Homo sapiens: one gene and its partner. The protein of the gene in region 1 purifies or fractionates together with the protein of each later gene. This does not show direct contact. Each region holds a gene or a part of one and is shown in the gene's direction. Other genes may lie near its edges.

Region 1 (7,315 bases):
GCTGGAGTGGAGGGAGTGAGGAGGGAAGAGAAGATGAGGACGCTGGGCAACCCTCTTTCCTGGAGGGCTGTCACATTCTTTGAACGACCCGTCTCAGCGTTTCCCCCAGGTTCTTGGGATTGGTGGTGATTTTACCTCTGATGACTTAGCAGAGAGACAAAAGGCATCCGCCCCCTTTCATCCGTTCTTGGAGGTGCCAGAGGCCACTTGCGAGAAATGGTGGGATGAGGGCCAGTGCTGCCTGCTGCAGGCTTTTGGCTTGGACTGGGAGAAGTGGGCAGCCATAGTGCATGACCTGATTTCATGGCCATGGGGCTCACTGCGGGGCTGTAAGGGGACAAGAGCAGAAGCAGGAAGAGCTGTTAGGAGGCAGCGGTGATGCTGCCTGCACAAGGCAGGTGCAAGGGAGGCGGGAAGAACGGTCTGGTTCTGGATGTACCTTGAAGGTAGAGTCAAGATGATTTCTTGATAGATTGGAGTGGGTTGTGACCGAAAGAGAAACACTGAGAATGATGCCAAGGACCTCAATCCAAGTCATCAAAAGGATGGATTGTCATTTTCTGCAATGGGGACAGCTGTGGGAGGAGGGTCCTTCCCCATTCTCTGTCTCCCCCGCCACCTTCTCCATACCCCCTTTTCCCTCTCAATGCGGACTTCTCTGCAGGTGCTGGCTCCAGGCCAGAGGGCAGGAGGGTCGTCTTGGCCTTCAGCTCATAGCAGGCAAGGTCGAGCAATGGGGAAGGGGTGGCGTCTGGGTCCCAGCTAATGGCCAAGATGGAGCTCCTGCTTGAGGGGACAGGGCCAGCTTCTGGGAAGCATCTTTCAGTCCAGCGAGGAGAGCGAGACCAAAACTGGGATCCTCTGCCTGGAGATGAAGCCTTCTCCTCTAGAGCAGTCTTTGGGTTTTGGGAGAGTTTATGGCCCCAGCTCAGACTTAACAAATCGACTCACAATACATCATCTCCAACAACTTGTTTGGCTAAGGAGCATAAGCTCTCCCTCTGATAGAAGATGTTTATGCAGGTTTTCAAACAAACCTCCAGGTCATGACCCCTCACTCTCAGCATCAACACAGCTGCCTGCGGTCCCCTGGGGCCCCTCCTGGGCACAGCAACCTGGAGAATGTGGACTGTACCAGGCTGCTTCCGACCTGGGTCCAGCTCCTTCCTCCTTGTGCCTGGAGAGGACAGCAAAGACTGGAGGGCTCTGGCTGCCTTCTGCCTCGCCCAGGGCCTCTTTCATTGACATGGTAACCCCACCTCCTCACCTACTTGTCCTCTAGGCTCAGGCCTCCTGTGACGTAGACAAAGGAAGCCTAAATGGACAGGCTGGCAGACCTGGACTTTCCTTCCTTCTGGCATTGCCATTTAGCAACCATGTGACCCCAGGCTGGTGACATGCCTTTAGGAGGCCCCACTTCTCACTTGTAACACTGGCTTCGCCTCATCTGCTGCAGGCTTGATGTGGACAGGGGTGCGATCCAGGAGGCACTTCCAGTCGCCCCCTACTAGTGGCTCAGAGCAAGGGGCCGAGGCCTCTGACCTCACTCTCCCTCCATCCCCAGGGCTGCAAGGAAGCTCTGGAATGAATGCGATTCCAGGGTGTGGCTTGGGCTCCCGTTTGTTTTCAAGGCTAGTGACTGTCCTGTTTCTAACTGCTCTTGAGAATAAATGCACGCTACAGGATGGTGAAAGCCTAGGAGAGGAAGGACTCCTATTCAGAAGTAATATTCTCACTGGGCGCAGTGGCTCATGCCTGTAATCCCAGCACTTGGGGAGGCCAAAGCAGGCAGATCATGAGGTCAGGGGATCGAGACCGGCCTGACCAACAAGGTGAAATCCCATCTCTGCTAAAAACACAAAAATTAGCTGGGCATGGTGGTGAGCGCCTGTAATCCCAGCTACTTGGGAGGCTGAGGCAGGAAAATCGCTTGAACCTGGGAGGCAGAGGTTGCAGTGAGCCGAGATCGTGCCATTGCACTCCAGCCTGGGCGCAGAATGAGGCTCTGTCTTAAAAAAAAAAAAACAAAAAAAACAAACAAACAAAAAAAAAAAAACTCACAAAGTGATGGAAAAAAATTAGAAAGTTCACACACACACCCCAATATGCAGGTTTCCTGAGAAATCTCTGAAACTGTACTGGGCAGAGCGGCTGGGAGGGATGAGTCTGCCCCTTGGTGCCTGAACCTCTCGGTCCTTCCAGAGTGACATGAGGTGGGCCTGGCAGGTGGCTTTCTCCCAGCAGCAGGGACCTACCTTCTGCTGCCACTAGCCTGTTAGTAAGTAGGCTAAAATCCCCACTTTACACTTTGAGATGCAAGGCGGGCGGATCACCTGAGGTCAGGAGTTTACGAGACCAGCCTGACCAATATGGTGAAACCTCGACTCTACTAAAAATACCAAAAAAAAATTAGCTGGGCGTGGTGGCAGACACCTGTAGTCCCAGCTTCTCAGGGGACTGAGACAGGAGAATTGCTTGAAACCAGGAGGCGGAGGTTGCAGTGAGCCAAGATCGTGCCCAGCCTAAGTGACAGAGGGAGACTCCGTCTAAAAAAAAACCAGTTTACCTGCCTGGAGACCGTGGGGTTTATTCTTCATCATTCTCACCCCAGGGCAAAAAGAGACAACTCTCCATCCACGGTGGCAAGGCTGGGGTTCTGAGTGTGTCCCCTCGAGCACTGCGCTCCGCTAAGGAAAGTGCACGCCCACCCTCCCTTCCTTCTGGGTGACAAGAATCCAGGTGTGCAGCGTCCTCACTAGGTTGCTTCCTCGTGCTTGATACTCCCCGCTGAGCTGCACAGACGCGAAGCCTGCCTTTGCACAGCTCCGTCTCTGACCACTCAGTTATTTATCCATTCACTCAGCAAACACGTTTTCTTGCCTGCTCACTCCAAGTCCACTGCAGACGGACACCCTGCAGCCTGCCATGGACCCACAGATAGATTGTGTTTGGCCCACACCATGTTTTGTTTTGTTTTTGTTTTTGTTTTTGTTTTGTTTTTTTGAGATGGAGTCTCACACTTGTCACCCAGGCTGGAGTGCAATGGTGCAATCTCGGCTCACTGCAACCTCTGCCTCCCGGGTTCAAGCGATTCTCCAGCCTCAGCCTCCCAAGTAGCTGGGATTACAGTCACCTGCCACCATGCCCGGCTAATTTTTTGTATTTTTAGTAGAGACAGGGTTTCACCATGTTGGCCAGGCTGGTCTCGAACTCCTAACCTTGTAATCTCCCCACTCAGTCTCCCAAAGTGCTGGGATTACAGACGTGAGCCACCATTAAAATTTTGAATTAATTGCCAAAGTTGAAAAGTGTGGAAATTGCAAGAAAAATTCTGATTTTTGGATTTCTCTTGAATAATTTAAAAAAACCCAAAAATCTCACCATCCCATGTGACCACGTTCTCTGGCAGCCCCTTCCCGAGGTGACACAGGCCTGGCTGCCCCCTGCTGGTCCCTTCAGGCAGTTCACCTTCACTCCCTGTGACTGATGGACAATAACAAAACGAGTGTTTAGCATTAGCCATGTGCCAGTTTCTAAGTGTGTCAGACATATTGACTCACATCAGCCTCACAATGACAGTGTGGTAGATGCTATGATGCCCATTTATTCAAGAAAGACTTGCTGGGGGCCCAAGCCTATCAGGTTCTGGCAATGGAAATGCATCCGGGAACAACACAGACAAAATCCCATCCTTCACGGAGCTTTCATTCCGGTGAGGGGACATGCAGCGTGCCGATGATGGTGGGGGTTGTGCTATTATAGATAGAGGGTCAGTATAGGCCTGGCTGAGCAGGTGACATTTAAGCAGAGACATGACTGCAGTGAAGGTTTAGAAGAGTGTCCCAGGTGGAAAGAGGTGAAGAAACAAGCCTGGGGCCACACAGCTAGTTAAGTAGCCAAGCTGGGACTTGAACCCATGCTGGCCCCAGAGTCTGTGCTCCTAACCATTGCATTCTAGGGCTTGATATGAGATGCCAGCCCCGCCCCGAGATGCTCAGAGTTAGTGAGGAAGAGAAACAGGGAACATGGCTGCTGTTAGAGGGCTGGGGCTGGGGGTGCCGGAGGCCCCAGCTCTGAGGGTTCCAACCTCCTGTCCTGTTCTAGTATCGTCCCGGGAGGCCGAGATGAATTGCCTGCCTGCCCTGGGCTCTTTATTTTAATCTCACTAGGGTTCTGGGAGCACCCCCCCCCACCGCTCCCGCCCTCCACAAAGCTCCTGGGCCCCTCCTCCCTTCAAGGATTGCGAAGAACTGGTCGCAAATCCTCCTAAGCCACCAGCATCTCGGTCTTCAGCTCACACCAGCCTTGAGCCCAGCCTGCGGCCAGGGGACCACGCACGTCCCACCCACCCAGCGACTCCCCAGCCGCTGCCCACTCTTCCTCACTCATGGGGAACAGCAAAAGTGGGGCCCTGTCCAAGGAGATCCTGGAGGAGCTGCAGCTGAACACCAAGTTCTCGGAGGAGGAGCTGTGCTCCTGGTACCAGTCCTTCCTGAAGGACTGTCCCACCGGCCGCATCACCCAGCAGCAGTTCCAGAGCATCTACGCCAAGTTCTTCCCCGACACCGACCCCAAGGCCTACGCCCAGCATGTGTTCCGCAGCTTCGATTCCAACCTCGACGGCACCCTGGACTTCAAGGAGTACGTCATCGCCCTGCACATGACCACCGCGGGCAAGACCAACCAGAAGCTGGAGTGGGCCTTCTCCCTCTACGACGTGGACGGTAACGGGACCATCAGCAAGAATGAAGTGCTGGAGATCGTCATGGTCAGTCTCCCCTCTCCCCTTCTGGCTGGGCGGTGCCGGGGTCGCTCCGGGCTGGGGGTCCCCTGCTGCAGCTGCTGCAGAGGGAGTGGATCTGTGGGTGGAGCGGGGGATGCGGGCCACTGGCTCTGAGAGCGTGGTGCTCCGAGATGCTGATATTGATAGAGGGGTGGGCACTTGCCCACAGCTTCGTTGTCTTCCCGGAGCAGAATCTGAGTGTTTCCTAATACAGCCATGTTATGCTTGGCTTCACGATGTTTGGGTCAACAACGGACGATATAGACCACTGTGGTCCCATAAGATTGTAATGGAGCTGAAAAATTCCTACTGCCTAGTGACGTCATAGCACAGTTACTTTATTTTTCAAATGCATTTAGTGTAGCCTAAGTGTATCCGTAAAGTCTGTAGTTGTGTACGGTAATGTCCTAGTTCTTCACATTCACTCACTACTCACTCACTGACTCACCCAGAGCAACTCCCAGTCCTGCAAGCTCCACTCATGGTGAGTGCCCTAGACAGGTCTACCATTTTGTATCTTGGTTTTTTATTTTTTATTTTTTTGAGATGGAGTCTCACTCTGTAGCCCAGAGCTGGAGTGCAATAGTGCGATCTTGGCTCACTGCAACCTCTGCCTCCCGAGTTCAAGCAATTCTCCTGTCTCAGCCTCCCGAGTAGCTGGGATTACAGGTGTGCACCACTATGCCTAGCTAATTTTTGTATTTTTAGTAGAGACGGGGTTTCACCATGTTGGTCAGGCTGGTCTCAAACTCCCGACCTCCAGCGATCCGCCAGCCTCAGCCTCCCAAAGTGCTGGGATTTACAGGCATGAGCCACTGTGCCCGGCCCATTTTTTATCTTTATACTGTATTTTTACTGCATGATTTCTATGTTTAGCTATGTTTAGATGCACAAATACTTACCATCGTGTGACAACTGCCTGCAACATTCAGGACAGTCACGTGCTGCACAGGTTTGTAGCCTAGGAGCAAAAGGCTGGACCATGGAGCTCAGGGATGTAGTCGGCTCTACCATCTGTGTTCGTGCAAGGATGCTCTATGATGTTCCCACATAGAAGTTGCCTTAAGATGTGTTTCTCGGAATGTATTCCTGTCTCTGAGCGACACGTGACTATATTTACATTTTTTCTTTCTCTCCATCCTTTGTTTCTTCCTTCCTTTATTAAAATGTCCTTTGAAATTTTCAGCAGTACACATTCAAGTTGAATCACTGTTCATTCTAAACACACAATATGCTTCTAATATAAAGTAGAAAGAGGTCAAAGTTGGGGGCATGAACTCTGAGTTCTAGTCCTCATGTTCTCCCCAGCGCGGGGCGGATCATGGCACCACGCATGAGCCCCCGCTTCCCACGCGCGGCGTGGCTCCCCGGCTCCTGACAGTTTCCCTGTGAGGCGCACAGGCTTCCATATGGTTCCCAACACGCCTTCTCCCCTGTCCATACTGTCCTCCTGTCAGATCCTTTGTTGTGAAAGTAATGGCAAAAACCATAATTACTTTTCCACTAACCTCGTAGGTGTCTTGAAAATGGTTTATCTGATATAAAAGTAACTCATGAAATTTAGAAACCTAGGCAAAAGAGACTAACAATTGCCTCTAATTCCAACATCCAGGGAAAACTTTTCTTAGTATATCAGTATATACCTTTTCAGTCTTTTACCTATATAATTTTAAATAATGTTAAAGCTATGACATATTCACATACGATTTTTTATCATACATTTTTCAGTTACTCTTTTATCATGAGTGCTTTCCATATCATTACATATTCTTCCAAAACACTTTTTTTTTTTCTTCAGACAGAGTTTTGCTCTTGTCGCCCAGGCTGGAGTGCAGTGGCGTGATCTCAGCTCACTGCAACCTCCCCCTCCTGGGTTTGAGCAATTCTCCTGCCTCAGCCTCACGAGTAGCTGGGATTACAGGCACCTGCCCAGCTAATTTTTGTATTTTAGTAGAGACGGGGTTTCACCATGTTGGCCAGGCTGGTCTCGAACTCCTGACCTCAGGTGATCTGCCCGCCTCGGCCTCCCAAAGTGCTGGGATTACAGGCGTGAGCTTCCGCACCCAACCTCTTCCAAAACTCTTTTAATAGCTGCTTGGAATTCTGGCTTATGGAAATGTGGAAATTATTGAACATTCCTATGTTTTTGGACATTAGGTTGTTTCCATTTCTTTCCTATTATACCAGTTCTAATTTCCTTCATTTGATTTTTTTTTAATTTATTCTTTTTCAGTCCCCCTGCCCCTGCCACTTACCTTATTCTTCTAATTCCATTCCTGTTAGTAGAGACTATTGTTTAGATGTTAATAACTTTGTGTGCATTGGCAATCATGCTTTCATTTGCATGATGACAAATGCACAAAAATCTTCCACAGTTATTAGGAGAAATCATAAATAAAACAGCAGAGCATGCAGCTTGTGGTCCATGGGCTTATCCTCAATGCTCAGCTCGGGCCTCCCATTCTGGCAGGCATGTGTCTCTCTCATTGTTATCTTGGCACAGCCTGCAGAGAAAGCTCCCTCGGATTGGCT
Region 2 (7,065 bases), on another chromosome or scaffold:
TGCAGGCTGTACCAGCATGGCAGCAATATATGTCCAGCTTCTGGTAAGGGCCTCAGGAAGCTTACAATCATGACGGAAGCGGAAGGGGGAGCAGGCATATCACATGGCGAGAGGGAGCAAGGGAGATGCCAGGCTCTTTATTTTTTATTTTTTTAAACAATCAGCTCTTGAATGAAATAATACAGTGAGAACTCATTACTGCAAGGATAGCACCAAGCCATTCACGAGGGATCTGCCCCCATGCTCCAAACACCTCCCACTAGGCCAACCTCCAACAATTAAGTTCACATTTCAGCATGAGATTTGGAGGAGACAAATGTCCAAGCCAGATCAATTTCTTACAACAATTTTTTGTAGTTTTCAGAGTATATACTTTATACTTCTTTTGTTAAATGAGAATTTTAAATGAAATTATCTTCTTAATTTCATTTTTGGATTGTTCACTGCAAGTGTATAGCAACACAATTTATTTTTGTATATTGACCTTGTATCCTTCAATCTTGCTGAAATTGTTTATTAGTTCTAATAGGTTTTTAGTGGATCCCTTAGGATTTTCTATATACAAGATCATGTTGGCCAGGCGTGTTGGCTGACACCTGTAACCCTAGCACTTTGGGAGGATGAGTTGGGTGGATCACCTGAGGTCAGGAGTTCGAGACCAGCCTTGCCAACATGGTGAAACCCCATCTCTACCAAAAAATACAAAAATTAGCCAGGCATGGTGGTGCATGCCTGTAGTTCCAGCTACTTGGGAGGCTAAGGCAGGAGAATCGCTTGACCCTGGGAGGTGGAGATTGCAGTGAGCTGAGATCGCCACTGCACTCCAGACTGGGCAACAGAGTGAGACTCTGTCTCAGTCTCAAAAAAAATAAAAAATAAAAAGATCATGTCATCTGTGACTAGAGATTGTTTTACTTTTTCATTTCCAGTTTTATTTATCTTGCCTAATTGCCTTGGCTGGAACTTCCAGTGCAATGTTGAGTACAAGCAGCTATAAAAGACACCTTTGTCTTGTTCCTGATCTTTCACCATTAAGTATGAGGTTAGCTGCGGAGTTTTTGTAGATGTTCTTCATCAGGTTGAGGAAGTTCTCTTCTATTCCTAGTTTGTTGACTGTTTTTATCATGAAAAGAGTGTTGGATTTTTCCATCAATTCTTAAAACGTGACCCTTTTCCCCTATGGATGAGGGATGTAAAAAAGAGCTATCTCTGCATGGATGATATAGTACAAAGCACTCTCACGTGGATGCTTCAGAAAAAGCCACCCCTCTTTGGGTGGACATAGTCTGGGATATGTTTGACTTGGTGACCAAGGACTCCTCTCTCATTTGGGTGTCCTTATTTAGGACCGAATCTGTACATGGTGGCCTTAATTTACAACCACTTTTTTTCAGTATATGGTTTCCTAGTACCCAGGGTGCCTCTGATTTAATTTTTTTCCACAGAGATTTCATACCAGTGGCCTTTTGCAAGGTGTGGATGAGGAACAGATATAAACATCTTAACACTGATTTTAAGCAATCTACCTGTCTTACCCTTGCATTCTGTGGCCCCTGATATCTCCAGTTCCTGAGCTTCTCTGATATTTATCTTTCTCTGTAGTACCTGAGTTTGATCTTCCACGCCTCTGCTAAGTCATTTGCCTTTCTTTTATCTACTTTCCATTGATATCTGTTGTGACTTGGGGTTACAGATATCTCCCAGTTCAGGGAAGACAGAGTTTGTGTGTCTATTTGTTGTTCTCCTTGTTTTGTAAAGAAAAATTTTTCAGAGAAGAGAAAAAATATTTTTTTGCTCTCTTCAAGTCAGAATTCAACCTAGAATTGGAAGAAACATAATGGCCAAAATGATAAAATAAATGATCTCATCATTAGGTTAATTAATGAAGAGCTAACACCAGGATTCAGAATCCCTGATACCCTGGCCACAATTAAACTATAACTGGTTCTTACTCCATAGAATCATATAGTTTGAGATGGGGGGGAGTACCTCTGAGGTTTTCAGCCAATTTCCCCAATTTTCCGTAAGTCTCCTCAACAATGTAAGTGGATTTCAGCATTGGTTACAATATCAATGTGAATAGGAGCATTCACTCTATTCCATGACTATCTATTCTTATTTCAGAGAGCTCTGATTATTGGAAAGATTTTTTTCCCTGAAACATTTTTTCACTTCCTCACACTGTATCTAGTTCTGCCCGCAGAAGTTACAAAGAACTACTGTATGTACAAATAATATAGTTTGGTAGCTGGAATACTGGCTACTCTAGAGATATGATACTGTACTCACTGCCTCTAACTCTTTGTACAATCTATAACTAAGACAGTTGACCAGCAAAATGGAGAAAAAGCTCATATCTCACATAACAGAGATTGAGACAATTAATAAACATCATCTGTAATTTATAAAAAAAATTCTAAGCTAGCTAGTTCTCAATCCACTAAATATAAGATTGCTGGGTAGGAGAAGAAATGACTATCAGGTGGGTCATAGAAAGGTTAGTGAAGAAAAGTGAGAGGATGTGTAAGAAATAACCAAGTGAATATTACAGGGAGATAAAACAAGTTGCATAAGCACATACAAATTTAAAAGTAGGAGTTGCTCAGAGAATTCAAAAGTATGGCTAGTGCACAAGGTGGGTATGAAGAAGACATGGAAAATTAGTTAGGAAAGGCAATAATGCTAAATATTAACATTTATTGAGTAAGCTACATTCTGGCCACTATTGAGTACTTTACGTGTAAGAACCCTCAAAACAACTTTATGAGGTAGATACTACTATTACTTCATTTTAAAGATGGGGAAAAGGAGGTATGGGAGTGTTAGGTTAACTTGCCTGAGATTATGTAACTAATAAATGGCAGAGATGGGCTCTGAACCCAGGTAGTGTGGGTGCCTTAATTTATGAAGTGGTCTTCATATGAATGGCCTTTTTATTCTGAAGGTTCTAGGACTTTTTAGATAGTAAGTTGGAAACATTGGTAGATCCTTTCCTACCTCTTCACCTTTGGCACAGCTATCTCAAAGGAGTATCGGTGATAAGATAGGTGATCAGTTTAGGGATCCACAGTGGAGGCCAGAGGACTGTTCCAAACACTGATCCCCCATATATAAACTGAGAACTGGGAAGACAGACCTGCTTTACGGCTGGTGGCCAAGCTCAGATATTTCAAATTGGACAGAGACCCTTTACTATCCTATTCAAGAAGAAAAGGAATTGGAGCTGTGAAAGGGAGAATAAGTATTGGTGGCAATCGGTACTTAATGCCAGTATTTTTTTTTTTTTTTTTGGCTATTGTTTTGTATTTCCTATGAAACTTTTCTGCAGATCCACATAGAAAAAAAATAGACATTTTTACAATAAAACTCCCACTAATTAAGCACAGCCAAGCACTGTTTTAAGTGTTTTATACATATTAGCTCATTTAATCCTCACAGCAACCCTAGGCAATAGGCTCATTATTTGTCTTTTGCAAAGGAGGGGCACTGAAGCACAAAGACATCTACAACTCGTCCACAATTGTACAGCAAATGAATGGGAGAACTAAGTGAAGCTGGAAAGAACTACTATAAATTGTAGACAAGTACAAAACAATTGGTTAAAGATTAATACTTCTGAGACACTGTGTAGCAGAAAGAAACCCGGATTTGGATTAGGACTTGAATTCAGCCTCCAACATTTACTGCTGTGTAAAGATTTGAGGCTGATCACTCCTATAAAATTTGGATTATAATACTTACCTCATAGGGTTTTTGTAAAGATCTAGTGACGTGATTATTGTAAAAGTGCACCGTTAATCTCTCAGATGTCACAGAAACGTTAGAAGCATCTCTTCCCAGGATTGTACATGGAAATGAAGGATCCACAGATTTTGTGGCTATAAAACACCCGGACTACCGATCCCAGTGTGCAAAGCCTCCAGGCTTACCTTCCCGGAAACTGGCGCGGTGCCCTCTGGGACTTGTTCTGGGACTTGTAGTCTTGTACTGGCGCTGGCCCGCCTTTCTTCCTTAGTGGGGAAAACCGGGTGTAAGCCCCGGAAGTACTTGTTGCCTGAGCAGTGGGCTGCTTAGGAAGAGAAGGTCAGAGTTCGCGGGGGCAGAGGCATTCTTGCCGCTGGCCCAGTCACTATGTAGTGGAGGGGCAGACACCCTCCCGCAAATTCTGGAAGGTTCTTAGTCTCGACTAGGGCAGTAGCCCCAGGACTCCTAGTCGCCGGCTTCAGGTCACTGCCGGCTGAACGGAGCTGCCGTCGCCATGTTTGGCTGCTTGGTGGCGGGGAGGCTGGTGAGGATGGGACCGGGTGATATCAGGAAGGGGTCAGGATACCGAGGGCGAAGCCCTACGGCAGGGAGGGTGCGCAGGCGCTAGGGATGCGGGGAAGCCCACTTATTATATTTTGGGTGGGTATGTGAGGATGGAGCGTGGGAAGCTGGGTGCTCTCCTTTGCCCAGCTCTATTCAGATTCTTTCGAATAGTAGTCACAGTATAAGTTGGCATTTATTAAGTGTGCATTTTGTACCAAGTACTGGGCTAAGTGCAATGCACGCCTTTGGTCACTCAGCCTTATGTGTGGCGCTTATTTGGCACTTTGAACTTAATCCTCATAACTCGTGAGATGGTCTTTATCTTTGACATTTTGCAGTTACAGAACTAAGTTCAATCGCCAGTATAAATACCTTCTTTATTAACTTGAGGTAGAGGTGAATTTGGGATTGAATTTGGTCTATAGCAAACTGTTTTTCAAAGATTAAGGTGCTCAGGGAATGTATATCTTTTGGGTCCCTTTGGAAGAACCCGAGTAAAAATAAGCTTAATTTAATTGGAAGTTGGCTGAAACTTAACGTGTGAGCCGTATCTGAGATAACCAGAGAAGGATGCGAGTAGTGTGTTTCCTTATGGGTCAAAATAGATAACTTACCTTGCCAAATTGTTAGAGTAAATGAGAACAGCACCTGGAATTCTTTAGGAATAATCTGGAAGGTGAATCTTGTTTGTTTCCTTAGAAACCACACAGACATCAATTTTCAGGCCTGATTCCTTTCCCCTAGAAGTATTTTTCCTTCTTTTTTCTCCTGGCTTTTTAAAATGTTGCAGTCCCTTTGCTGAATTGTCTTTTTTTCCCATCAAGTTTTGATAATGTATTGTATTCTGTACATATACAGTTCTAAGAAGCCAGAAAGATAAGTTGGAGATGACTAGCCTCATAAAGTTTGTCTCTTGAATGACTGGGAGACCCCTGTGGTGATGGTGGTAATTCATAATCCTGGTGAGATAATTTTGCCCTGCTCTTAATAGGGAAAAAGGACAAACCTGGAATGATTGTGTGACTCAGACGAGTGAGTGTTATTAATGAATGACATTAAAATTGTGTTTCTTAAAGAATAAAAAGCCTATTTGGAATCCATGTATCTCTCACGTTGTCAACTAATTTGGAAGGAAATTTAGTTATGGTAATACCTGCCTCTATATATTGGGGATACTTGGTCCTTTAATTATGGAGTATTAGGACACATCAAAGTGAAGGACAAATAGACCTAGTGGCATCTCAAAACTTAACTACACGACTCTGTTATAAGAAAAATCTACTTATCTAAACTTATGAACCCAGTTTTTATTTCTTAAGATTTTTTTTCTTAAAGAGATACACCTTTTCTTAATGTCAAAAATTAGAGTGTGATGATACAGATTTGCAGACTGTTCAGTACCTATACAAAGTTGACACTTAAGAAATATTTATTTTGCCTGGTGGTTATTTCAAGACTCATAAATAATAATTTCCCATGCTTTTTAGGTTATATGCATGCCAAAGACTGGTGAAATTGAATTTAATACTAATACAGGCCATTTGGTTTGTGTTATTCCTTTGTTTTATTCTTTATACTAAAGCTGGAGGATTTTAAAGTGGGTCAGAATACTTCTGAAGAGGGAATCAGAATTTGACTTTAGGAACACTGCCTTTGTATCTTGAGACTTAATTTAGGGCAGCCAGTTGATACTACTTTATAACTAATAGATAGTTGAAATTACATAGCAGTATATTTTTCCTAAGTTTATTTGTATCGGTAGATAGGATATTATAGAGGGAAAACTTACCTAACACACATATTTTCTCTGTAAGGCATGTCATAGCCTTCTTGCACTTAGGAAGACTAGCCAGCACTTGAACTTGGTCATTTTAAACAGCACGATCACCAACAAAAATCACAAAAATGCTTTAAATAGATGAGACTGTGAAAAGGACACTTTTTCATATTACGAGGACTGAAACAAGATGGCATGTTCTACCTCAGCTGCCAGTGTGTGAGTTGCACAACTCACTTTTTTTTTTTTTTTTTTTTTTGAGACGGAGTCTTACTCTGTCAGCCAGGCTGGAGTGCAATGGTGTGATCTCTGCTCATCGCAACCTCCGCCTCCAGGTTCAAGCAATTCTCATGCCTCAGCCTCCTGAGTAGCTGAGACTACAGGCATGTGCCCCCATGCCCAGCTAATTTTTATATTTTTAGTAGATACTACGTTTCGCCATGTTGGCCAGGCTGATCTGGAACTCCTGACCTCAGGTGATCAACCCGCCTTGGCCTCCCAAAGTGCTGGGATTACAGGCATGAGCCACTGTGCCAGGCCTACAACTCACATTTTTTACTACTGTTCATATGAGTATGTCCATGAATGACTGCAGAAATGCAGCAAGCATTGATTTGGGATTACAAGTGAGTTTTAGTGAGTAGGTGAATTCAGATACAGGATTTGTGAATAAGGAGGATTGCCTAATTACTTCTGGATTGCTTACCTGTTTTAATTACCTGAGATTCTTTTATTTATTTTTGAGACAGGGTCATGCTCTGTCATCCAGGCTGTAGTGCAGTGGCGGGACCTCGGCTTGCTGCAGCCTTGACATCCTGGGTTCAAGTGATTATCTGGTCTTAGCCTCCCGAGTAGCTGGGACCAAAGGCGCATGCCACCACCCCTGGCTAATTTTTGTAGTTTTTGTAGAGATCGGATTTTGCCATGTTGCCCTGGCTGGTCTTGAACTCCTGAGCTCAAGCCAGCTGACTGCCTCGACC

The links.
Region 2: the proteins of RCVRN (region 1) and HIKESHI purify together in Homo sapiens (affinity purification with mass spectrometry; 2 studies listed by BioGRID and IntAct, with this or other methods). This does not show direct contact.

The regions. Positions count from the first base shown.
Region 1 is NC_000017.11:9,902,253-9,909,567, reverse strand, and holds the start of RCVRN (recoverin), read left to right. Parts: upstream 1-4,296; 5' UTR 4,297-4,387; coding exon 4,388-4,768; intron 4,769-7,315. UniProt on the Homo sapiens protein: Acts as a calcium sensor and regulates phototransduction of cone and rod photoreceptor cells. Modulates light sensitivity of cone photoreceptor in dark and dim conditions.
Region 2 is NC_000011.10:86,298,191-86,305,255, forward strand, and holds the start of HIKESHI (protein Hikeshi), read left to right. Parts: upstream 1-4,049; 5' UTR 4,050-4,258; coding exon 4,259-4,288; intron 4,289-5,166; exon of another isoform or gene 5,167-5,340; intron 5,341-7,065. UniProt on the Homo sapiens protein: Acts as a specific nuclear import carrier for HSP70 proteins following heat-shock stress: acts by mediating the nucleoporin-dependent translocation of ATP-bound HSP70 proteins into the nucleus.